Linked DNA regions of Homo sapiens. The protein of the gene in region 6 purifies or fractionates together with the protein of the main gene of each other region. This does not show direct contact. Each region holds a gene or a part of one and is shown on either strand. Other genes may lie near its edges.

The links.
Region 1: the proteins of SLC2A12 (region 6) and RER1 purify together in Homo sapiens (affinity purification with mass spectrometry; 2 studies listed by BioGRID and IntAct, with this or other methods). This does not show direct contact.
Region 2: the proteins of SLC2A12 (region 6) and WDFY3 purify together in Homo sapiens (affinity purification with mass spectrometry; 2 studies listed by BioGRID and IntAct, with this or other methods). This does not show direct contact.
Region 3: the proteins of SLC2A12 (region 6) and SLC25A51 purify together in Homo sapiens (affinity purification with mass spectrometry; 2 studies listed by BioGRID and IntAct, with this or other methods). This does not show direct contact.
Region 4: the proteins of SLC2A12 (region 6) and MTFR2 purify together in Homo sapiens (affinity purification with mass spectrometry; 2 studies listed by BioGRID and IntAct, with this or other methods). This does not show direct contact.
Region 5: the proteins of SLC2A12 (region 6) and TAMM41 purify together in Homo sapiens (affinity purification with mass spectrometry; 2 studies listed by BioGRID and IntAct, with this or other methods). This does not show direct contact.
Region 7: the proteins of SLC2A12 (region 6) and PDXDC1 purify together in Homo sapiens (affinity purification with mass spectrometry; 2 studies listed by BioGRID and IntAct, with this or other methods). This does not show direct contact.

The regions. Positions count from the first base shown.
Region 1 is NC_000001.11:2,390,354-2,394,640, reverse strand, and holds the start of RER1 (protein RER1), read right to left. Parts: upstream 2,801-4,287; 5' UTR 2,683-2,800; intron 1-2,682. Other genes in the region: MORN1 (MORN repeat-containing protein 1), read left to right, coding at 3,108-3,183. UniProt on the Homo sapiens protein: Involved in the retrieval of endoplasmic reticulum membrane proteins from the early Golgi compartment.
Region 2 is NC_000004.12:84,963,891-84,968,118, forward strand, and holds the start of WDFY3 (WD repeat and FYVE domain-containing protein 3), read right to left. Parts: upstream 2,801-4,228; 5' UTR 2,319-2,800; intron 1,969-2,318; exon of another isoform or gene 1,726-1,968; intron 1-1,725. UniProt on the Homo sapiens protein: Required for selective macroautophagy (aggrephagy). Acts as an adapter protein by linking specific proteins destined for degradation to the core autophagic machinery members, such as the ATG5-ATG12-ATG16L E3-like ligase, SQSTM1 and LC3.
Region 3 is NC_000009.12:37,887,128-37,890,627, forward strand, and holds the end of SLC25A51 (mitochondrial nicotinamide adenine dinucleotide transporter SLC25A51), read right to left. Parts: intron 1,466-3,500; 5' UTR 1,424-1,465; coding exon 530-1,423; 3' UTR 477-529; downstream 1-476. UniProt on the Homo sapiens protein: Mitochondrial membrane carrier protein that mediates the import of NAD(+) into mitochondria. Mitochondrial NAD(+) is required for glycolysis and mitochondrial respiration.
Region 4 is NC_000006.12:136,230,534-136,233,311, forward strand, and holds the end of MTFR2 (mitochondrial fission regulator 2), read right to left. Parts: intron 856-2,778; coding exon 742-855; 3' UTR 501-741; downstream 1-500. UniProt on the Homo sapiens protein: May play a role in mitochondrial aerobic respiration essentially in the testis. Can also promote mitochondrial fission.
Region 5 is NC_000003.12:11,822,886-11,826,385, reverse strand, and holds part of TAMM41 (phosphatidate cytidylyltransferase, mitochondrial isoform a precursor), read left to right. Parts: intron 1-3,500. UniProt on the Homo sapiens protein: Catalyzes the conversion of phosphatidic acid (PA) to CDP-diacylglycerol (CDP-DAG), an essential intermediate in the synthesis of phosphatidylglycerol, cardiolipin and phosphatidylinositol.
Region 6 is NC_000006.12:134,000,625-134,004,124, forward strand, and holds part of SLC2A12 (solute carrier family 2, facilitated glucose transporter member 12), read right to left. Parts: intron 1,506-3,500; coding exon 1,373-1,505; intron 1-1,372. UniProt on the Homo sapiens protein: Insulin-independent facilitative glucose transporter.
Region 7 is NC_000016.10:15,013,026-15,016,525, reverse strand, and holds part of PDXDC1 (pyridoxal-dependent decarboxylase domain-containing protein 1), read right to left. Parts: intron 398-3,500; coding exon 313-397; intron 1-312.

The DNA.
Region 1 (4,287 bases), on a different chromosome or scaffold from region 6:
AATACCAGACATGAAAGCAAAGACATCATTCCTCAGCAACAGTTGGGGTCAGTCTTATTGTTCTCATTTACAGATAAGAAAACTGAAGCTCACAAAGACTAAAGAGTTGCCCTGGCCCATCAGCATGTTCGCAGTGGGCAGGAGCCAGAACCTGCACCTTCCTGAAACCAACGCTTTTCCAGTCCCATCCTCACTGTGAGCACTGGGGAAATCTTCCCTTCAGGTGGAAGGCAACAGGTGGCCAGACGCAATCCCGCCCTCAAGTGCCTTGGCTCTCCCATCACAACTGATGCGCTGAAGTGATCCAGGCAGCTCCCTCCACATCATCAAGTCTGTGCAGAATGTGGCTCCATGACACCGTTCCTGGATCCTCTGTGCAGAGTGCCAGGCTGCTCAAGGAGACCGAGGGGCCCTTTGGTCTCGCGGAGCCGTGTAAACCAGACACAGAGGAGGAGCACCTTTACTCTCCACTGAAAGAACTCCATATTTAAATAGAGGCTACACTAAAATGTGTCACCTGGAATGGCCACCCTATTTAGGCCAAAGCCAGGCCATCTGAAAGCCACCCGTCACATTGTTCGTCCTATAGCTCCTTGTAAGTTTCCCCGTTTTACTCAGACTGTTTCCCATTAAAGCACTTTTACTGGACTGGAGGTGATGAGAGTAATGTCAGGGAGAAAATACCCAGCTCTCCCGCCAAAGGGTGTTCTCTAGGCAAAGCTCAGAACTTCTCACTCTCCAACTGAACATGTAGAAAACCTACTCAAAACGCCATCAGCCAATCCTGCTTGTCTGACACACACAACACGTATACCAAACACACACGTATACCAAACACAGCTTGCACCCTGACTGAACGCATTGCCAGGAATAGCCTGAGGCAGGGCGGCAGGAGCAAGAACGTGAACTTTGGACTCCAACAGCCTGCTTTCAGATCCTGGCTCTACCACTCTCTGCCAGTGTGACTAGGACAGGCTATTCCAGGATGCCTCAGGTTCCAGTCTGTGAAATGGGACAACAGCACCTCTCATGCCTTCTCCACAAGGCTCTCGTGAGGAATCAGTGGGCAGCCCGTGGAGCACCCTTGGAGCCGGGCAAGGCAGTGCCAGCCCTGTTCCTGGATCAGGGCCAGCCCTCACACCAGCTGCCCCCTCTGCAGTCCTCTTCTCTGCTCAGTTTGAAGCCCACCTCCTCTTCACAGGCCTCCGTTACCGCCCACACTGACCCCCAGTCCCTTACATCACATCACCCTATTTTTATTTTGTGTACAACTGTTTCCTGATACCTTTCTGGTTTACTTCTCAATTTTCTCCTGCTAGAATGAAGCTCCTTGAGGGGTCCCTTGTCTGGTTCGGGGCTGGGCCCTGCCACCTGGAAGTCCATTACATAGTAGACAGCCCATCAATTACCTGTTGAAGGTGACTGCTTTATGCCTGGTCACAAACAAAACAGAAAGGGAGATAAAACCAGTCCAAGCAGAGACCATGAGGACGTGCCAGAAAGTGTAAGACTCTCTATGTGCCTTGTTCCAGGCCCGTCACATTCATCCACATCTGTGGTCCATCACTCTGCACGTGGAAAGGATGAAGTCCTCTGCCTGGCGTCCGGGAGCATTGACAGTCTGGCTCCCACCTTTCTCTTCACGTCCCCATCCCCAATTCCTCCGGGACTAAGAAAGCCCCCGGCTGCCGTGCACCAAGCTTCACGCCTCTGGTGTTGTTCAGTCCTCTGAAATGCCCTCCCAGACCCCGTCTCTTCCTCCTTCCCAAGGCCACATTCCAGCCTGGGCTCCCCGCTCCTCTGGGCCTGACCATCTTATATCTCCACCTGGCTCTGACACACTGTTACCGCCGTCGCCGTCACCTCAGGCATACGGCAGAAGCCATGTGAGAGTCTGAATTACTGAGAACCCTTTATCCACTTACGGGGATAACTGCATCTTCCTGGGAAATGTCAACTCAACTAAAAATAAAGTGCTTCCAGGACTAGCGGCCAGTCTCTACTCTTCATAAAGGGAAAAGGGCAAAAGCCCACTGAAGGTACTTAGGCTGAAAGCAGCCCTCTGTGCTGTGAGACACCTGGCAGAGAAACGAACGATACCTTTATCAGTGGGGCCACAGACCAGTACTAAGTCAGCCTGGAGAATTTATGATTTTATTGCCTATTTAGAATACGATCAAAACCGATGTAACTAGTTTCCCTTCAGCCCGTCAGTAACGCCTTCACCCCAGAGCTTAACACTAAATCCTACAGATAAGCGCTGACCTGGACGCAGGATGGGGACAGGGCACATTACTCTGGAATACAGCCCAACTCGCAGCGCTGTGGGGGCCGCGACTGCCCGCTTCCCCCAGATGCCAAGCAGGGGATGCGGACGAGATGCGGCCCGGGTGGCTCGAGGGCTGCAGCCCCCGCCCGGCCCCTCTCCCGCTCCCCCGACCCTCGCAGGCCCCAGGGCTCCGCCGCACCCCCCAGCACCCCGTCCCGGGCCCGACCCCGAGGCGCGACCCGTACCCCTCAGGGCCGCGGGTCGGGAACACGGTCCCCGCGGCCACCCGGGCCCCGACGGCCCTCCCCGCCCGGCCCTCAGCGCGGCCCCGCCCGCCCGCGGCCTTGACAGCCCGGAAGAAGCGGAGGCGGCGCTGCCCGGCCGTTCCCGCGCCACGCAGCCCTTCCTGGCACCTCGCAGCTCCGCTACGGCCGAGCCGCGGTCTCCCTCACGGCCGCGGGAAGGAGGACGGCGGGGCACGGGCGGCCGCAGGCGCTGCGCTCCGGCTCCGGGAAGCTGCAGCGAGCACTTCCGCTCCGTCCTCCGCGGCGCCGCCTCCAGGGCCCCCAAGATGGCGCGAGGGCGGGGCCAAGGGCTCCAACCATTTCCGCTTCCGGCGCAGACGCGCAGGCCGTTGGCGGGCGGGCCTCCCGGCGGAAGAGACGACAGCGGCGGAAACGCGCACAGGCGCAGCTGCGTCCTCTGGCTCCGGGCCCGGCTAGCTTCGCTCCAGAGATTGCGCGGGCTCAGGGACTAGGCCCGTGGCCACACCCCCCCTTGCGACAAAGACCAATGGAAGCGGGCGTTGCTGGTCGCTAAGAGAACCCTCGGCGGCAAGATGGCAGCGGCGGGCGAGGGCACCCCGAGCTCCCGCGGGCCGCGTCGGGACCCGCCTAGGCGGCCGCCCCGGAACGGTAACGACTGCGGGCCACGGGACAGGTCGCTGGCTGCCCTGGGCTCCATTCAGGGTGCGATCGCTCTACGCCCTCGACCCCCAAATGCTCACCTCGGAAAGTAGAGGTCCAGGTGCCGCGGCGGAGCCAGGGCCGCCCCCGCGTCCCCCACTCCCACAGGACTCGCCGTGCGCCTCGGGCTCGGCTCGCACCCTTCCCCGAGCCCTCCTCCCGCAGCAGGCCAAGCCCTGCAGGGGGTCGCCCCCCGCGGGCTCCTAGCCGGGAAGACCGGGTTCCGGCCGCAGCCTCACAGCCAGCGGGACCTGGGGTTGCCATGGGGATCCCGAAGCCCAGGACTTGGGGCGAGGGCAGGCGCAGGAGCAGCACCAAGCCTCCTGACTTCCTGGCCGGTGCTGTCCAGAAACGCTAGGACGCGTTTCAAAAGCAGTTTTTGCCTGTACTTCCAGCACTTTGGGAGGCCGAGGCGGGTGGATCACCTGAGGTCAGGAGTTCGAGACCAGTGTGGCCAACATGGCGAAACCCGGTCTCTACTAAAAAATACAAAAATTGGCCCGGGGTGGTGCCTCCTGTAGTTCCAGCTACTCGGGAGGCTGAGGCAGGAGAATCGCTTGAACCCAGGAAGCGGAGGTTGCAGAGAGCCGAGATCGCGCCGCTGCACCCCAGCCTGGGCGACAGAGCAAGACTCAGTCTCAAAAAAAAAAAAAAGAGCAGGTTTTGATAGGAACTGTTTCTAGAATCAAATAAACGGGTCTGGAATGAACTCAGAGCTAACACTACTATCTTCAGGTAGAACCTGACCCTGATTTGGGACAGATACAGTAGCCTGTAGTAACCCCCTGCCCTCCTCCCCGACATTTTCCCATAAACCCTGCCCACAAAATGTGCCTGAGGAGCTGGTAGGGAGGGAGCCCTGCCCATTCCTGGAACTGCAGGAGTTGGCGGGTGGCACACCCAGCAACTAGGAGGAGATGAAGCCGGCCAGGCCATCCTTGGGTATGAGTGTGGATTTTCTCCCCAGCGATAGGAGGCCACTGAAGGGCCACGGCAGGGGATGGGAGAGTCTGCTCCTCCCCTGTGTGCCTCACTGACACTGCCGCTCTGCCT
Region 2 (4,228 bases), on a different chromosome or scaffold from region 6:
GAAACAACGTCTATGTGCTGAACTCTTAATCACAAACATTTCTTGGGCATAATCAGAAATGAAGGACATAAATCATCAAATGTAATTTAAAAATTTTAGCTTTCCAAATATGGAATATGTATTCTTTAATTTTATATCTAGAAGTTCATAATCTTTTACAGACCCATATCCTTTTGAGAATGTGATCACCCAACAGAGTCTTTATCTAGGAAAAAAGCAAATATATGCTATATTCTGCATATGATTTCTGGGAAGCCAAGGACCCTCAGAAGTATATGCATGAAATTAAGAAAGAAGCAGGGCATGGTGGCTCACATCTGTAATCCCAGCACTTAGAGAGGCTAAGGCAGGAGGATCACTTGAGGCCAGGAGTTCAAGATCAGCCTGAGCAACACAGGGAGACCCTCATCTCTACAAAAAATAGAAAAATTAGACAGGCATGGTGGCATGCACATGTAGTCCTAACTTCTTGGGAGGCTGTGGGAGAAGGATCACTCGGGCCCAGAAGTTCAAGGCTGCAGTGAACCGTGATCGTGCCACTACACCCCAGCCTGGGCAACAGGGCAAGACCCTGTCTCTAAAAAAAGAAATAAATAAATAAATTAAGAACAACTGATGTAAACTTTTAAAATTGCAAAGTTGAGCAGTGGAATTTAAGAATCTCTTCAAAGCAGAGAATCCAACTAATATTGAAATATACTGTCATTTACTTTTTCAAAAACAGATTATGCAAGAGTAGAACATTGTATTTTCTAACTTATCCCTCCTTTTTGGAGGTGATACAAATTTTTTGAAACATTTTTTTTTTTCTTTACAAAAATTGTTTTCTCTTTGTTGCCCAGGCTGGTCTCTAACTCCTGGCCTCAAGTGATCCCCCAGCCTTGGCCTCCCAAAGTGCTGGAATGACAGGCATGACCCACTGTGACCCACCAAAAGCATACATATATTTCAGATGAATCCATTTTAACTCATGGAAAGAAACTAGCAGTAGAAACCTCTTTCTAGCAGCTTGAGATAGAATGGTTCAAAGTATTAACATACTTTACTATTGCTCAAATATCATAGGAAGAGTTCTCAATTCTAATGCAATATATATTTTTAAACATAAAAACATACCAACCTAATTCCTATACTTAAGAGTCTCATGATAAAGTTTTATTTTTTTTAAAGTCGGATTTTTTTACTAGACTTATGCACTAATACAACATGTTTTTCTATAAATTAGCACATTTTTAGTTCTGTTTTATGTTATGTTTGTTACGTCGCCTGATAGTCGAAACCAGTTGTTCTCAACCTGCTACCAAATACCAACCTGGAAATATGCCACTATTTAAAAAGCCCGAAGAATAGGGTTTTGTTTTTCCTTTTTAATTGTTTGGTGTTCAAACTACATAGTAAACCAGTTGGCAACCATTACTGAACAAAAATAGTTTTTCGTATGCATGAGCACCATTTTCCAACAGAAAACACTTAACCATTTTTAAGGTACTGGAAGTCCATGCAAGGGTTCACATATGCAGTAAATATCCTTTCAATCTGGTTGTATCACATTGTTTCTGTGAAAGGAAGACCTGATATTGCAGATCTCACAATTAAATGGTAAAAATCAATGAAAAACTGCACCTGAGGCTCAAACACTAGCCAGATGGCCTTTGGTTGGAAAGGTCTCATCTGCTTCTTAAATCCCGCCGTAACTGTGAATGTTTGCGATGCCACCACATCCCCAGTACAAGAGAACTGGAGCATCTCTGGCTCCTTCCATAATCGAAGGGCTTCCAGCGTAGGGCGTAGGGGGAGAGGCCCGAAGCCCTGGAGACAGCGCCCGAGGGATGGAGGCCGCGCTCGGCTGCGCTCAGGTCCGGGTGGCTCCGGGAGCTGAGACCCCGCAGGATGCAGCGGGGGGGGGCCAGGGCCTGATCCCCTACCCCTGCGAGCCAGGGCCGCCTACGCCCCCACTGCTTCCCACAGGTAACGTCCAGCCCTCTCCTCCCCTATCCCCCGAAATATCCCGGTTCCGCTCCGCTCCGCTCGCCGCCCGTGACCCCGACCCCGACCCGTCCGCGACGGCGCCCTCCCCAGGAGGCAGCGGAGGACTAGGGCCAGGCCGCCCACCCTGGCGGCGGCGGCGGCTCCCGGCCAAGGCGGACCCTGGGGAGGACAGCAGCTGGGCCGCGGCCTGTCCCTAGGGGGAGCGGGCGCAGGGCCGCGAGTGGGCAGCGCCTCCGCCCCGCACGAACAAAGCGGCCAGGCGCGCCGGGCCGAGGCAGCACCGCCTCTCCGGGAGCGCGGGGGGCGGGGAGGATGGCGGGGGTACTCACCTGAGGGCCGGCGGAGGGCGCGGGCGGGACAGGCCCAGGAGACGGGACCGCGGCGGGCCGGGGCTCCGCGCCGAGGGCGCACGGGCTACGGGGAAGGGGCGACCGGCGCGACGTCCGCGGCGGGGCCCGGGAGCCCCGCGCCGCGGGCCGGGGGCCGGGGCCCGAGCTCGATTCTGCGGCCGCGAGGTATGGGAACCGGTCCGCCGGGCCAGGCAGCGGTGCTAGGCAGCAGGGGCAGCGACGCCGCCGCCTTTCCCTTCTCCTGCCCCCGTCCCTGCTCCGCCGCGTCCTCGTCCTCGCTGGGTCCCCGCCGCCGCCGCCTCAGCCTCGGCGCTCCTCGGGTTTCTTCTCTCCATCAAGGCCGGGCCGACCCGCAGGGACCATCCCGGAAAGTGAGGGGTTGTTGCCGTTTCCCGCAGCTGTTGGTGGCCATCTTTAATCCTCCTCCTCCTCCTGCTTTCTCCACCTCCCGCTGGCTGTCTGACTGACTGACTGGATCCTCCTCTTTCCCCTCCTGCTCCTCCTACTGAGCCGGCCGCAGAAATTGCAGCCGCTCAGCTTCTACCCCCTCCTGCCTTTCCTTCCTCTTTCCTTACTTCCTTCCCTTCCCTCGGCTTCCCGCTCTTGCCTCACTCTCAGCGGCTGCCTTCGCCCCTGTCTGCAGACAGCGCCGCTGGATGCTCCCAGCTGGACTTCAACCCCACTCCTCTCAGTCCCTCTCCCCACTGCCTTCCAGACGCGCCTCTTCCCCGCCCCGCGCCCCTCTCTCCTCTCCCACCCCTGCCCCTCTCCGCGGCGCTCACCCTCCTCAGTCCCAGTTTCTGAAAGGACTCAGCTGAGAAAGGACAACTGGGTTCCGCTTTCCTTAACCCTACACCCTTTAGCTGGATGCTGTCAGAGGCGATGGAGAAACGCAAAGGTGCGTTAATTTTACTCTAGCCAGAGTATAAAAGAACTGCCCACGCCAGCTATTGTACTACGCAGCTTCGAAACTCCTGCACGCTCTCCTGTGTGGCTCCCGTCCGTGATGGGACTGTAGTTGAGGAGCTCGGTCTCAAATGGTGCCTTCCGTCAGTGACCTTGAGTCGGTTGCCTAAGATTTTAGATTTTCCTTTTCCTTCCTGGGAGGGGCATTATTTATACCTTTGCAGTCCCACAAACAGTGTTTAGACCAAATAAGTATCCTTTAGTAAACCTAGAACTGCCAAGTGATCATCATTTTGCCCGTTTGTTCCTACTCAACCCAGCAGACAATTTGGGTCACGCTTCAGTTCTGGCAGTAAAGACAAACTGAGTCAGCAGTTAGGAGTGGACTCCCTTAAACAACAGAGTTAGAGTGGGGAAGTGGTCATAACATCGCTGTAATCACAAACTTGTTTTTCCTAACACTGCAATCTACAGAAGTTTCAGGATTTCCTCTAATAAACATAAGGCAAGTTGGATTTGCTGTTTTCTTCTTTTTGACGATTTTGCCTTTAGAGTTGGACCCATTTGTAATGATTTACTCGTCAATTACTCCAAGATAACAAAGTTGGAGGTAACATTGCTAACAAACACAGGTGATATATATGAGCACTTTGTGGGGGGGGGGTGTCACAGTTTTTCTTCTGTGGGGCACTGGCTATTAAAAAAAAAAAACACCTTGCCCTTTCAAAATAAGACTAGTGTGTTCAAAGGTTAGTCCCTTAAACAGACCAAATGTGGGCAGAAATGTTTTTAAATGTAGTTTTAGATTCTACTTCAAAATGAGTAATGTTTTGAAAGTTCAAATATAAGATTTTGTAATTATAACAATTTAAGAGTTTCAAATCTCTTTGAAAAGAATATGCCAAAACAAACCTAAAAATATATTTTAGTAAAAATACCGGTATCCTTTGGTGGGGGGCGGAGCAGAATTCTAATATTTAATC
Region 3 (3,500 bases), on a different chromosome or scaffold from region 6:
AACATGGTGAAACCCCGTCTCTACTAAAAATACAAAACAATTAGCTGGGCGTGGTGGCGGGCGCCTGTAATCCCAGCTACTTAGGAGGCTAAGGCAGGAGAATTGCTTGAACCCTGGAGGCGGAGGTTGCAGTGAGCCAAGATCGTGCCACTGCACTCCAGCCTGGGCAACAGAGCAAGACTCTGCCTCAAAAAAAAAAAAAAAAGTATAAGCCTAACTTTGTCACTAGTCCTAAGGAGAAACTTTTAACCACAAAGTTTTTATCATTGAAGACAATATTGAACAACCCCCTATTTTGTGAGGATTGAGAAGGGGTGAATAGAGGCTTGAGACTTTCCTTTGTGTGGTAGGACTTGGAGGAGAAATCCCCTGGACTTTCACTAACCCTCTGACCTACTCCCCACACCCAGTTGATGGCTTTCCATAATAAGATTGGGATTTCCTTTAAAAAAAAAAAAAAAAGAGGCCAAACTGCATTCTTCTTAGAAGGTCTATTCAGTTGATAAATGGCACTTAACTGATGGTTTTTTCATATAACCTTTAACAAGAACTCATAAGTTGCATTGATTATGCCCCAAGAGATGAGGGACCGATGGTAATTCAGATGGGCACCTCTGAAAAGATTTATCAGTTTTCTGTCCCGTTCCAGCCAGATTTTTTGGAAAACCTTGGGGAAAGACTGAAATTCCCCACCAATCTGAGACTGTATGCGAGTTTTTACAACATTAATTGGAAAAAACAAGAATCCCAACATGGCACCCAATAGACCTCCACAGATAAAATCATTGACCAGATGAGCACTGTGAGTCGTTGCGGTAGGCAGATGCTCCTTAATGGGACCTCGAAGGCCGAAAAACAAGACATTGCTGAGTCCATTCCGGAAAAGAATGGGCACCAAGCCTCGATAATACTCTCCAATTCCATGACATTTCAGTGCCTTGAAAGCCTGGTAAGTGTTGGTAAATTTGTCATGATGCTTGTGGTCTTGAAGCAATGTCTGAACTCTTTCCAGTGGAGTGAAAATTGCTTCTGTTGTCCCTGCAAGCACTGCCGCCACGCCACTGGTTGCAAACTCTGGAGCACTGACATGCTTGTGGAGAAGGCAGGATAAATCCTCATACAGACCAAACATAAGTGCAAGCGTAGTTGTCTTCTGCATCAATGGGGGAAGGATTCCACGATACAAATTTCGAAATCCATCCCTTCTCAACTGAAGTATTGCATCCCGGGTTTTGATGCCATACAGCTGTTGTCGAAAGAGGACCTTCTGAATGGGAAATGTGATTGCGACATTGTTGAAGGCTGCACAGCAGCCACACAAGTAATGCTTCATCTCACCAACATTTGTAATATGAGGTGATATATCTTGTTTTGAAGATGTTAGTATTGGTGGCCTCTTTTCATGAGCTTCTGAATCCATCATGCTGCTTAAGATCTTTCTTTTTCATGAAGGACTTTTTTTAACCTACAAATAATAAATGACAACGGGTAAACCCGTTTTATAGAGAGCTAAACACATGGGCTTTCTCCCTAATCCATCCTCTAATATCTGGACACCACACTTTCCTTTTCAGACTAGATCAGTGATTCTTAAAGCATTTTCAGAAGACCCCTGGAAGTCCCTGAGATCCTTTTGGGAGTCCAGGAGATTTTCCTTTTTCAAACTACATATCTATGTGAGGCTTGATTTTTTGCATATACTTTAATCAAAATGACTTATCACAACAGACTGAATGCAGCAAACAGGAAACTCCATCTTAAGTCAGACATGCAAAAGGCTTAGAAAACTGTAAAATATTTTCTAATGACTGTAAAATCATTAGAAAAAAATGGGAGGCATGAATGTTATTTTTCATGAAAATGTGTTAACATGTAATGTGTTTATCATTACCTTAAAATTCATATTTTAATTTTAAATTCCTAAAGACCCTGAATATCAGTCCACATAAACAAAGGGTGTTTGGGGCCCACAATCATTTTTAAGACTGTAAAGGAGTCCTAACACCAAAAACTTTCAGAGCCACTAGACTAGTTCGTAATTACTGACTACACTATATACGGTATCTATCTATTGTCCTGCTGAAATAGGCCCACATTCCTCCCCTGAGAAATAAAACAGCAAGACATGCACTCATTCTATTCATATTTATACTTCTTTGGTACCTACTATGAACTAGGTCCTCTGCTAAGTTGCTAGAGATTCAAAGATAAGGAATTCACAAACTAATAGAATGTGCCAAGGTGAACAATTACACCAATGTGACAGCTTCTATGATAACCAACCATTGTGGGAACACAGGTAAGGGACACTGAACATGCACCTTGGAAGGTGGAGGTGTGGGATGATGGGGGCAAGGAAGGCCTACAGGTATGTACCATGCACTCTATTTTCATGTATGAATTCTCAAAACAACTCCACAATTATTTTTCCAGTTTTACAAATGAATAAAACCAGTATTCTCTTTTGTTCTGTTCAGGGCACAGCTAGTAACTGGTGGGGTCAGCATTCTGAAATGAAGTCTGAGTGATTCCAGGGCTCATATCCCTGCTACCATATCACAGATGGCAATGACTTTGTGAGGCTGCCCTGGGATAAGAGGTGGCTATACTAGATACTGCTGAAAATGATTGGAACTAAGCCAAAGTTCCACCCCTATAATACACCTCCTTCTGTAAAATGCATGATCTTTCCTTGCCAGTCATCTAAATCTGATTCCTTCTCCCTGAAAAAATCCAGATCCAAATAGCTGGGTCATACAGAATAATTCCCACCTTCCAGTTCTGGTCTTGGAAATCACCTTTATTTGGGGGATAACATGATAACTGTATATTGTATCTTAGATATAATAGAAATATATAGAAACTTCTATATATTAGAAATATATATAAATATATACACACATATGTGTATGTGTGTGTGTATATGAGGCTAAATATTTTTTAATTGGATTTTAATTCCTTAACAGTAAGATACTGGCCAGGCATGGTGGCTTATGCCTGTAATCCCAGCACTTTGGGAGGCTGGGGCAGGAGGATTGCTTGAATCACGAGTTTGAGACCAGTGTGGGCAACATAGAGAGATCCCATGCCTATGAAAAAGTTAAAAATTAGCTGGGCATGGTAGCACATGCCTGTAGCCCCAGCTATGTGGGATGCTGAGGTGGGAGGATCAATTGAGCCAGGGAGGTCAAGGCTGCAGTGAGCCATGATTGCACCACTGCACTCCAGCCTGGGCAACAGAGCAAGACTCTTGTTTCTAAAAATAATAACAATAATTTAAAAATTAAAAATAGTAGTCAGGCGCAGTGGCTCACACTTGTCATCCCAGCACTTTGGAAGACCAAGGTGGGAGGATTGCATGAGGCCACAAATTTGTGCCCAGCCTGGGCAACATAGTGAGACTCTGCCTCTACAAAAATCAAAATAAATTTTTGGGGCATGATGGCGTACACCAGCTACTGGGAAGGTGGAGGGAGAAGGACCTCTTGAGCCCAGGAAGT
Region 4 (2,778 bases), 2.2 Mb from region 6:
GTGATTCTAACCCTTTTCTTCATGGTCATAACTGCCACACAGCCACTCCTAACTGGAGCTGTTGATGTTGGTTCAACAGCTCAGTGATGTCATCTCTGTGATTCTAACCCTTTTCTTCATGGTCATAACTGCCACACAGCCACTCCTAGCTGGGGCTAGGCAAGCAACTCTCTACCACAACAACAAGAAAACTGTAGGAAACCTGGGCTTTGCTGAAAGTGAAGAGCTTGGCAAAATGGGTGGGGCTGAGTCCATTCCAGTGGTGACCTCAGCTCCCTGGCTGTTGCACACAGTCTGAAAGGTCCAGGGAAACATGTAAATTTCCATATCACATTAGTATGTGGGAGAAGAGGGACAAAATATCTGTTGCAAACTTATGTTTCATTTCTATTATCCAAGAAACTCTACCTATGGCATTCCTCACAAAAAACAACAACAAAAAAAGGTCAGACTATGTGGTGAGAAAACATGAATTTTGGTTGCTACAAAACACAAGCAAGTTCAAAAAGAATGTTTATTTTAAGCTCTATGTACAGAAGAACAGAGTATAAACGTAAAAAGGAACAAAGGAAACAAAAATGACAGGCATACATATTTACATAGCAAGTGTAGGCAAAATGTGTCAAGAAGAGTCTTTAAATACATCTACTTTTAGCCTTTAACAGTCCAAATCAGTTTCTAAGAATAATTTATCATCCAGGAAGAAGTTTTGGAAGTTTAAAGCTCAACCTTAAGTTGAGTTTAAATCCTTGAGTTTAGAAGGCTTGTGTTGCTGATACCTTGGTCAACAGCTTTTGTGTTGACCATTTCTTCTTTAGTTCGCTGTCCTTCTGACTGTGAAATGTGATGTCCAAACTGAAATAAAGCAAATATTTAACACAGAAATTATTCTAATGTCAAAAAAAAAAAAGAATGGCAAGACAAAGGCCAGATGACCCTCTGAGGTTTCATTCACAATATTTATTTACCGTATTTATTACTATAATACATAGTTATTTGGCTATGTATCAGGTACTACGCTCAGAGCCAAGGACAAAAGTGAACGAGACACTCTCAGCGGCACAGACTGAGCTCTTAGGCAACTAAAATTTGAGTCCCTATGTGCCCAGCCTGAAATTAAGTGCTAAAAACTATGTAAAAAAAAAAAAAAAAAAAAAAAGAAGATTATCTAAAATACTTGTAATTGGCTGGAAAAAGTGCTAAGAGACACTGAACTAATAGCAAGCAGTAAATGACAACCTAGAAACACTTCGTTTATCCACTATCACTGGGAAACAGTGTGTTCCACCTACGGGAACTTCTTACATAAATGCATCCTCAAATTTTCAAACATCCTCAAATTTTAAGAAACCAAGTTCTAGTCTCTGCTCTGCCCCTTAGATATGGGATTATAGGCACTACAGGGATCATTTCCCTCACATTTTCGGGGGAAAAGGGATTGCTGCTGTGAAGATCTAGTGAGATGAGTAAAAAAGGTACTTTGCAAGTTACAAACTGCTCTACAAATGTTAAAATTAAACATTTATTTTAGACACACTTGCATTTTTATAGTAATAGTTCTAAAGTGTCTTCTTAAATAGTTAAAAGAATATAATTTTCTAAGTCAACATGCTAAACATCAGATATATACACACACACACACAATGGTGAGCACAGAGGCTGCACACACTGGAGTGGCAATGTGTGTGTGTGACAAGTCCCTCCACTCTGTTACACTCTTTTTCTTTTTTTGTTTTTTTTGAGACTGACTCTAGCTCTGTCGCCAGGCTGGACTGCAGTGGCACAATCTTGGCTCACTGCAACCTCCACCTCCCGGGTTCAACCAATTCTCCTGCCTCAGCCTCCTGAGTAGCTGGAATTAATTACAGATGCGTGCCACCACACCCGGCTAATTTTCGTATTTTTAGTAGAGACGAGGTTTCACCGTGTTGGTCAGGCTGGTCTCGAACTCCTGACCTCATGCATGATCTGCCCACCTCAGCCTCCCAAAGTGCTGGGATGACCACGCCCGGCCCTGTTACACTCTTGGAGGGCTCAATGCATCTGAGTTTTCCAGTCTCTTCCTCTGCTGACGTCTGTCCTTCCTCAGTGCTATCTAGCTGACTTTAGATGCTGTTCCTCTTCCACACTCCTGTCATTCTCAAGGCTTATTCTTATGTGTTAATACTACCTCAACTAAATTAAGACATGTGAAAACCACCCCAAAATTAGAATTACTTCTAAATTTAAGAAAAGAGACTTCAAGTAAGGAGTAATCTTAAGGCTCAAATGCTTAAAATCCAGTGTTTGTCATCCTAGGCATCCAGTAAGTGCTGTCACTAAAGATAACTATAATCCCATTTGCTTTTTTACATGCAGAGTTAACATTATATTCAACAAAATATCCAAAGTCTGTATATTTGACAGAGAAAAATCTTGGCGTATTCACATTCCATATGGTTAGGGGGAATCTATTGCACCATTCTTCCCTGGCCCTCTCAAACTGTCAGACACCCAGTTCATACTGCAGATGGCAACATCAAATTGGCACCTAAGATAAGTCATTATAAACATATGCACAAATATTTTTCAAATTAAGTATTTTATTTCAAAAGAGCTCATGATAGGCTAAAAGTGAAAATGAGCATATAAAATTAACAACAAAAAAACCCCAGAAACATTAGCAGCATCAATAAACAATTATATAGCCCATTCTGCACAATTACTTCAAGAGAACTTGAACACAAAGCTGTAACATAAACAACACATCTGAGAAAAACTGAAAAATTAATTTTACAT
Region 5 (3,500 bases), on a different chromosome or scaffold from region 6:
GGCTAATTTCGTTTGTGTAGCGACAGGGGCTCGCTGTGTGCTTCTGCTGGTCTCGAATTCCTGAGCTCAAACGATCCTCCCGCCTCGGCCTCCCCGAGTGCTGGGATTATAGGTGTGGGCCACTGCGCCTGGCTGCCTCCAGCATCTTATCTCATTAATAGTCAGTGTTCAGAAAATGATTGCTGTTATTATTATTTTTATGTATTATTGTTGGTCAGATGGGTTTTCCTCAGGTTGAGAAACTGTTATTTGCTCAATCATCCAGTGATTGATGGACACTTATATTAGCTCCATTTCTCACTGTTTTATTAGCAACACTGCTGTGAATCACTTTGTACAGATTACTTTCGTTGGGAAAGGGGCAAAGGAGGCACTGACTTCCTTGGATGTGTTCTCCAAAGTGGAATTATGTTGTCAGCTATAAAAATTATAAAACTTGTTACATATTGACAAACAATGCCTGTCAAAATTTGCAGGGTGCTGTGGCTCACACCTGTAATCCCAACTTCCAGGCTGCAGTGAACTATGATCACACCACTGCACTCCAGCCTGGGCAACAGAGCCAGACCCTGTTTCTTAAATTAAAAAAAAAAAAAATTAGCTGAGTACTTAGATCAGATGGATTGAAACATGACAGCCCCATTTCATCTGGCCGGTTAAGGTCCTCATGGAATGAAAAACACTTTCGGGCACTCTCCTATGAGAGAGAGAATGGGTTTCTTTAATTGCCAGATTGTCTGAACACAGCCTCAGCTACTTCTAGGAATAAGACGAAGCAGTGAGGAAGTTGCCAGTTGAGTGATTCTTGGGGAAAAAAATTAGCATTCAGTGCCAGCTCTCTAAAGTGTGGATTCTGGATTCTGGTAGAAGCCAGTAAAGAAACGTTTTCTCTGGAGTGGAAGCTAGTAAGATTTATTCTGTGGTGATGAAGCCATCTGAAACCTTACAAGCAGTGTGGTTGTATCAGCATATGGGAGCTGACTGCCTCAGGACTTTGGAAGCCTGCTTCTCTGTGCCTCAGCCGGAACTCAGGTTACTCAGTAGTCATTTGCTAATTTCTGAGAACGCAGCACTCCTGAAGGGATAGAAAGCATGAACAATACCCAAACTTTTTAGACTAGTACTGTGTGTCAGGTATTGTAACATTCATTCAGTCCCTGAAATGTACAAACTAGTTATTGCTCCCCTTTTTCATTTGAGGATACTGATGCCCAGATAAGTTAAGTGGCTTGCCCTGGGTCACATAGCTTGTAAATGCCGAGCTAGCATTTGAACCCAGGCAGTCTTCTTCCTGGAATGCTTGCTCTTAACACTTCACTGTTCTATGAAAGGTCTTTGGTGGTGGGCGTCACTCCTGGTTCACACTTAGGTCACTCCTTCCCCAGGACCCACTGGGTCACACCTCCCCTCCCCACACCCACCCCAGTGGGCCTCAGTTCTGGCTTATCATGGAGGCCTTCCCTGACTGCTACTGCAACTCCACCACTCCCTATGTCTTTCCCTGTTTGTGTTTTCCCCATAGCACTTTCCACAGTCGGCTACACTGTATCTTATTGTTGGTTGGCTGGCTGATCTTTGGTCTTTGTTCCACCACTGAGGATGTGGAGGGAAGGAATTGTTGTCTTGTTTTGCTCCTTCTGTTTGGATGCTTCCAATAGTATGTGACATGTACTAGGTGCTCAGTAAATATTTGATGAGTGGATTATACTGCTTCCTTCCTGAACCAATATAGTGAACCTGAGTCCTCCCTATTACTTCCTACTTTTGTATTTTCTAATGTATACAAAAGGAAGGCCAGGCATGGTGGCTTACGCCTGTAATCCCAGCACTTTGGGAGGTGGAGGCGGATGGATCACTCAAGGTCAGGAGTTCGAGACCAACCTGGCCAACATGATGAAACCCCATCTCTACTAAAAATACAGAAATTAGCCGGGCGGGCGAAGGTTGCAGTGAGCTGAGATGGTGCCACTGCACTCCAGCCTGACAACAGAGCGAGACTTTGTCACAAAAAAAAAAAAAAAAAAAAAATTAGCCAGGCATGGTGGCACACACCTGTAGTCCCAGCTACTAGGGAGGCTGAGGCAGGAGAATAGCTTGAACCCAGGAAGCAGAGGTTGCAGTGAGCTGAGATCATGCCACTGCACTCTAGCCTGGGTGACAGAGTGAGACTCTGTCTAAAAAAAAAATATTTACAAATCATGCATCTGATAAGGGACTAGTATCCAGAATATATAAAGAATTTTTAAAATACAATGGATAGGCCGGGCGCAGTGGCTCACGCCTGTAATCCCAACACTTTGGGAGGCCAAGGCTGGTAGATCACTTGAGGTCAGGGGTTCCAGACCAGTCTGGCCAACATGGTGAAACCCTGTCTCTATTGAAAATACAAAAAATTAGTTGGATGTGGTGGTGTGCACCTGTAATCCCAGTTACTTGGGAAGCTGAGGCAGGAGACTAGCTTGACCCCAGGATTCGGAGGTTGCAGTGAGCCGAGATCATGCCACTGCACTCCAGCCTGGCGACCGAGTAAGACTCTGTCTCAAAAAAAAAAAAAAAGCCGGGCATGGTGGTACACACCTGACCTGTAGTCCCAGCTACTAGGGAGGCTGAGGCAGGAGAACAGCTTGAACCCAGGAAGCAGAGGTTGCAGTGAGCTGAGATCATGCCACTGCACTCTAGCCTGGGTGACAGAGTGAGACTCTGTCTAAAAAAAAAAAAAAAAAAAGTAAAAAGGCAGCTAACAAAATGGAAGAAAATGTTTACAAATCATGCATCTGATAAGGGACTAGTATCCAGAATATATAAAGAATTTTTAAAACACAATGGAAAGGCCGGGCGCAGTGGCTCACGCCTGTAATCCCAACACTTTGGGAGGCCAAGGCTGGTGGATCACTTGAGGTCAGGGGTTCAAGACCAGTCTGGCCAACATGGTGAAACCCTGTCTCTACTGAAAATACAAAAAATTAGTTGGACGTGGTGGTGTGCACCTGTAATCCCAGTTACTTGGGAAGCTGAGGCAGGAGAATAGCTTGACCCCAGGAGGCGGAGGTTGCAGTGAGCCAAGATCATGCCACTGCACTCCAGCCTGGGCAACAGAGCAGGACTCTGTCTCAAAAAAAAAAAAAAAAAAACAACAACAACAACAAAACAATGAAAAGACAATCCAGTTTAAAAACAAGAGAAGGATTTGAATAGCCATTTCTTCAGAAAAGGTATTCAAATGGCCAGTAAGCACATGAAAAGTTGTTAAACATCATAGGTATTAGGGAAATGGAAACATCAATACAAATCACAGAGACGCCATTCTATACCTGCTACAATGGCTGTGATAAAAAAGAAAGGCAAGAACAAGTGTTGAGAATGTGGAGAAATTGGGACCCTCATACATTGCTGATTAGATTGTAAAGTGGTACAGCTGCTTTGGAAAAAAGCCTGGCAGTTCCTCCAAATGTTAAACATAGCTACCATATGACCCAGCAGTTCTACTCCTATATATCTAC
Region 6 (3,500 bases):
GAAGAGTAACAAGTTCTGCTTCATTCTTAGCCCCTATGTCTCACCTCTTCCCCCAGGACATGGTTTTGGCAATTAGAGCTACTAAAAAAGGAAAGGGAATTTTCTGCCACTCACTTCTAAATTAAATGTTTCACTTCTAAGTTAAATTGTTTAAACAATCTCTCCTTGTGAAATTTTTTAAACCAGTTTTCTAAAAGCCTATTCATATAAGAAACTTATCTTTCTTAAAATTACCTTAAATGTGCAATATTTAGAACAACGGTAGATGGTTAAGCCTGAGAGTTTTTCTGCTAATCTTAGCCTTAGCAAGTGTTTAGGGCACAGAGAAGGAGCTCTAAGTCTGATAGAGATGGAAAGGCTGAGACCCAAGTTCCTAGCCCAGTGTGAACATGGTATATCTACACTTCCGGGACCCACCCCAAACCCCAAACAAAGAAAACCTGTTGGGGGGAGCTAGAGAGGCGGAAGAAGTTCTGAGATGGTGATTGAGTAGAGCTTTAAAATGTTCACCCGTTGGTTGGGGACTGGGTGGGGGAAGCATTGGGGGGTGGTGGGGGATAAAAGACTACAAATTGAGTTCAATGTATACTGCTCCGGTGATGGGTGCACCAAAATCTCACGATCGCCACTAAAGAACTTACTCTGTAACCAAATATCACCTGTTCCCCAAAAACCTATGGAAATAAACTGTTTTTTAAATGAGATAGTTTTAATCAGTAGCACAGAAGATTCACATCCTCTGTACAACAAAATTAGTTTCAGGAAAAAATCAGGTAAAACAACAATAGTAACAGTTTCTTTTTCCGAAAAGAAATGCAGACAGTGAAAATATTAAACTTTGTTCTAGTAAAAATTATTACATTACAAAAAAGGAAAATATGGTTTAATGCTTTTTAATTACAATGATGTATTTTTGTTTTTGTTTCGTATAAAAGGAAAAAACTTGTAACCTTGTACGTACATATTGGTTGGTCATAGTAATGAATAATAGCATTACAGTTTGATGATAATTATAAAAGGCTAACGTTAAAAAACATTCCAATTGTAAAGATTTTATTCAAATTCAGTACAATATTTCATTGATAAGTGAAAATTTGCACTTGCCAATCAAATACATTCACTTTGTAGTTTGAAAAAAAAAAAAAAAGCTTCATTCATTGGGAAGAAATGGTTATTCTTCCTTAGCTGAATCACCCAAATTAAAGACAAAGCAGGGAAATTGGAATTATGCACTGAGACATAGTCTTACGCTAAAGGGAATGTCCTAATCTAATAATATCTAATAATTTCAGATATTATTCCTTTGCTGTATATAAAAGCTGCACTTTTGACCAAAGAGTATTGTTCAGAAACCAATGCATGTAATACTTACACTTTTGCTAGCTCCATTGATATTTGTTCCAAAGAGCATCCCTTTGTCTCAGGTATAAACATAACAACAAAAAGCAGGGATGCTAGACTCATGATTGTATATATAAAGCACACCCATGGCAGGCCAATAAGATCTATAAAGGACAAAAGAAATTGATTAGAAATGTGTTTTGTGTAGCTTTGATCCCATTTGTGAACAGCCACTTAGGGCATACATAGCACCATATGTATTTTCAAACATGCCAGCAGTATCCAGGAAAATAGAAATCACAAATTTAAAATGTAGCCAGCTCTGAAGGTGTTACTTTTACAGACTACCTTAGTTTTCTCTGTTGAAGAAAATAGCAGTCTTGTAACTATCACAATTTACACCCAATGTCATCTTCTTGGTGGGCATGTCTTTCTGTTTCAAAATGGCAATGTGTCTTTATTAATATAAAAAAGCACATGCAAAAAAGGAACCTCAAATAACATGGAAACATATGATGTAGAAGGTAAAATCTCTCTTCTCCCTCTCCACAGTTCCCCTCTTGGGAATCGCCATGGTAGCAGTTTAGTTTCTGTTCGGTGGACAATTTTTTCCCCCTCTTGCTATCATTCCCAATGGTGGACATTTTTAATGACATTTGTACAGATGGATTTTTCTTGGAATGAGCTCACCCTTCTTTGCTCTGATGTGAATAAATCATTTCATGCTGGCAATATTTCATCATTTTTAATAGCTTGCAGTGTATTTGTAATGTTTCTTCCTGGGTTCAGAGAAAAAAGTGATCATGGATCCAGTAAAAGCCATCAACTTGCCAAGATGCATCACAAGAAGCAGGATCCTCAAGATTCTGATGACTCTCATCTGCAAACCTAGTTTTTCCTCTGACCGCTTCCAGCCAAAGATACAGTCCCTTTGTAGTCATGGACCAAGTCAAGGCACATTCAGTGGTCAGCAGTGGCCCCCACAGTGCACTTGAGGCTGCCATTTGCATTGTGGCGGCCCCTGACTCAGCAGCAGAATGTCTAGTGTGGCAAGGAGTAGTCAACTACGAACAACAAGATTTTACAAATAGCCTTTAACAGCTGCAGCCACAAACCACAGTTGGTCAGGCAGGAAAACTGACTGAGCACTTGTGTACTGAGGCAGTGTTTGTAAATGCAGCATGAAAGAATCGAAGCATAGTAACTACTTGTCGGTGAGTTGTGCTGAGGTTGGGAGAAGCAGGAAGGAGGAACCGCACTGCAGTTCTTTTGGCAATTTTAATTAAACTCCTGTCTCTCTCTGCTTTTCTAGCTGGCACAGGGTATGGCCCAACTGATTGCTTAATAAAGTCCTTGTAGAATTGGGTGTCCTTCCTTCTCTGGAGCTTAAAACCAGAATATAGAAATTGTCAAAACCCTAAAGGCTGTCTCATCAAATTGTCCCCAGTTTTGTTTGAGCACTTTGAGTAACAGGGAGCTCACCATTTCACGAAGCCTCTTACTGCCCTGTGAAATAGTTGCGTCTGCTAAAAAGTTATTCCTTGCTTAGATCCTAAATCTGCCTTTCAGAGGCTGTGCTTTGTCCTGTGGAAGGACACACAGTGAATCAGCTCTCCCCACCCCTTCTCCGTGACAGCCATTCAAATATTTGAATGCACCTCAGCCCTCCTCTGAGAATCCCCTTGTCCAAGTCAAACATCCTGAGCTCTTCAACCATTCTTCCCACAGCATAGGTTACTGCCCTCGCCATTCAGGTTGCCCTCCTTCAGCGAACACACTGCAATTTTTAAATGGCCCTCTCGAGATGTTTTACTCAGAGCTGAATGCAATGCTACAATTGTGTCATGATCACTGCAGAGTACATTTGTCTATCTGGAACAGTCTGCTTTTATTGATACAGCTGAAATTGCATAAAAAATGTTGGTGTTTAAGGGCTTACTGCCAAGTAGAACCTCACGTCTTTTAGATCCCTGTGTCCTACACTTGGAAAATTTATTTTTGAAAATAAGTAGGAAATGTCAAGCATTCCAATTAAATGTCATCTAAAGGTTTTAGAGCATTCTAGGCTTTTTGTTTTTAAGTGGATCTGTTTTCCTACATTTGTTCTAAAAGCCCATACGGAACTTCTAAAGCTTCACTAGCTCCTCCAGTGTATTAGC
Region 7 (3,500 bases), on a different chromosome or scaffold from region 6:
TGCACTGTAACAGGAAGATCTGTCCACAGATAGAGGAAACCAAGCCCAGTGCCTGTGACTGGGGGAGCAGAGGTGGGAGTAACACACTGGATCCTGGTTGATGTCGTGCCTGAGGCAGTCATAACACTGCTCTTTGTAGTTATGTGAGCCAGTAAGATCTCTTTGGGCTTAAGCCAATTTGGGTTATTTTGTGATCTGTGACCCAAAGAGCCCTTCGTGATAAATGTCACCAAAGTGAGAGCCTGGATGTCCAGTCCTCATAAGGACTCTGTGCAGGCCCGAATGGAGCCACCAGCCTCACCGCCGGCTTACCCCTCCACATGAAGCCATATGCCATACTGCTCACAGAGTTCTTTCAATCTCCCAATCTTGTCTGTGTGTCCTACTGCTGCCGTTCCTAGGATAAAACACATCAGGGCATTAAAAGGAACAAATGTTTTCTAAGGCTTTATACCTTAAACACTTTTATACACATTATCGCCCTAGGAGGGAAGTGACTTATTATATCCCTATTTTATTGAGATTTTCTTTGTGGAAGGACTTAAAATCAGTGTTTGTGAGTTGACTTATTACAAGCTTTGAAGAGTATGTAATCTCTATTACATGTATCTAATTGTGTCATTGAATTCTTTTATATACTTATTTTCTATCTACTTGATCTGCTGACTCATGAGAAATATATTCAAATCTCCCACCAAGATTGTGGTTTGTCAATATATACTTGTGTTACATCAGACTTTTCCTTTAGCTTTCCTTTATATATTTTAAAGTTATGTTCACAAGCATTCATAACTGTTTTTTTTTTTTTTTGAGACGGAGTCTCACACTGTCGCCCAGGCTAGAGTGCAGTGGCATGATCTCAACTCTGCAACCTCCACCTCCCAGGTTCAAGCAATTCTCCTTGCCTCAGCCTCCCAAGTAGGTGGGATTACAGGCGGTGGCCACCACGCCCGGCTAATTTTTTTGTATTTTTAGTAGAGACGGGGTTTCACTACGTTGGCCAGGCTGGTCTCGAACTCCTGACCTCGTGATCCACCTGCCTCGGCCTTCCAAAGTGCTGGGATTATAAGCATGAGCCACCGTGCCCAGCAGGTATAACTGTTATTTCTTTTAGGAGATTACATCTTTCATCAATATGAAGTCTATTTTATCCCACACTAATATGGCTATGGTACTTTCATTTTGTCAGCATTTGTCCAAGATAAACTTTTCCACCTTTTTATTTTATTGTCACTTCCTGGATTATTTTGATTTAGATATGCCCTTTATAAAAATCATATAGGTGGGCTGGGCACAGTGGCTCACATCTGTAATCCCAGCACTCTGGGAGGCCCAGGCGGGTGGATCACAAGGTCAGGAGATGGAGACCATCCTGGCTAACACGGTGAAATCCCGTCTCTACTAAAAATACAAAAACAAAATTAGCCGGGTGTAGTGGTGGGCGCCTATAGTCCCAGGTACTCGCGGGGCCGAGGCGGGAGAATGGCGTGAACCTGGGAGGCAGAGCTTGTAGTGAGCCGAGATCGTGCCACTGCACTCCAGCCTGGGCAACAAAGCAAGACTCCAGCTCAAAAAACAAACAAACAAAACATATAGATGAATTTGTTTTGTTTCCACCCAGGTTCCTTGTAATACAGAACATGCATTCTGAAGCCAGCTTAAGCATATTAAGCACTTTCAGCCGCTCCCTTGGTAATTGATTGCACTACAGATTTTGCTGGGGAGATCCCTTTTCAGAGAGAGCTTAGTTAAAACGTTGAGTCAGGCATTCCCCCAACCGTCCTAAATTTCCAGTTAGCAGTAAGCCAACTAAAAAGATTTCAAACACTCACCAACGGCCTCAACAAACACAGCTAAAGAAAGTAGTTCTTTTGTAAGGTCTATGCCAGGAAAAGGGCTGAAAACTTTTTCCCCTCATACCTAAATCTACCTCAAATTAAAAAAAAAAAATCTTAACAGACACATTTAGTTTAGCTGAAACAAGATCAAATGTCAATGCATGGGCTGTGCCACAGGCTCTTCCAGCAAAATAAAAGCGTACTGCTGTGTTAGTGCCTGGATCGCATGCAGATTCTCTTTTCGTATTTCTTGGCAATGTCTGGTGACTAACCCTTGACATGTGTCTGCTGACATCTGCAACATAATCACACTGGCAAGTCACTCAGTCACATGCAAACTGCAGCCCCTCCAGTTTATCATGTGATTGAATATGGGTGAATTTGTGTTTTTAAACAATAAGGCAGGAAGTGATGGTTTTCCTGTTGGCAATAAAGTGAATATTTATGTGGTTTTTCTATTTTGTCTTTTTTTTTTTTTTTTGAGACAGAGTCTCACCCTGTTGCCCAGGCCGGAGTGCAGCAGCGCAATCTCGGCTCACTGCAATCTCAGCCTCCTGGGTTCAAGCTATTCTCCTGCCTCGGCCTCCTAAGTAGCTGGGATTACAGGTGCCTGCCACCACAACCAGCTAATTTTTATATTTTTAGTAGAGACAGGGTTTCGCCATTTTGGCCAGGCTGGTCTTGAACTCCTGACCTCAGGTGATCTTCCCGCCTTGGCCTCTCAAAGTGCTGGAATTACATGCATGAGCCACCGCACCCGGCCTAAATAAGCAGTTTTATTGTAGTATGATTTTTTTTTTTTTTTTTTTTTTTGAGACAGAGACCCTTTCTGTCGCCCAGGCTACAGTGCGGTGGTGCGATCTTGGCTCACTGCAACCTCCACCTCCCAGGTTCAAGCGATTTTCCTGCCTCAGCCTCCCAAGTAGCTGGGACTACAGGTGCACACCACCACACCTGGCTAATTTTTGCATTTTTAGTAGAGATGGGGTTTTACCACATTGGTCAGGCTGGTCTTGAACTCCTGACCTTGTGATCTGCCTGCCTCAGCCTCCCAAAGTGCTGGGACTACAGGCATGAGCTCTCATGCTCGGCCTATTGTAGTATGATTTACATGCAACAAAACTCACTCATGTAAGTATACGGTCCAATGAGTTTTGACAAATATATAGAGCATGTAACCATCAACACAATCAAGATTCAGAATACTTCCATCAACCCCCAAATCCCATCAACCCCAATATAATTACCCTTTCCCTGACTCCTCACTGGCCCTGGAAAATCCTGATCTGCTTCTGTCACTGTAGTTTTTTGCCTTTTTTTTTTTTTTTCTTTTTTTTTTGAGATAGGGTCTCACTCTGTCGCCCAGGCTGAAGTGCAGTAGCACAATCTCGGCTCATTGCAAGCTCCGCCTCCCGGGTTCAAGCCATTCTCCTGCCTCAGCCTCTCAAGTAGCTGGGACTACAGGTGCCCACCACCACACCTGGCAAGTTTTATTTATTTACTTATTTATTTTTTACAGAAACAGAGTCTCACTCTGTCACCAAGGCTGGAGTGCAGTGGTGCGATCTCACCTCACTGCAACCTCTGCCTCCCGAGTTCATGCCATTCTCCTGCCTCGGCCTCCCAAGTAGCTAGGACTACAGGTGCCCACCACCACACCCA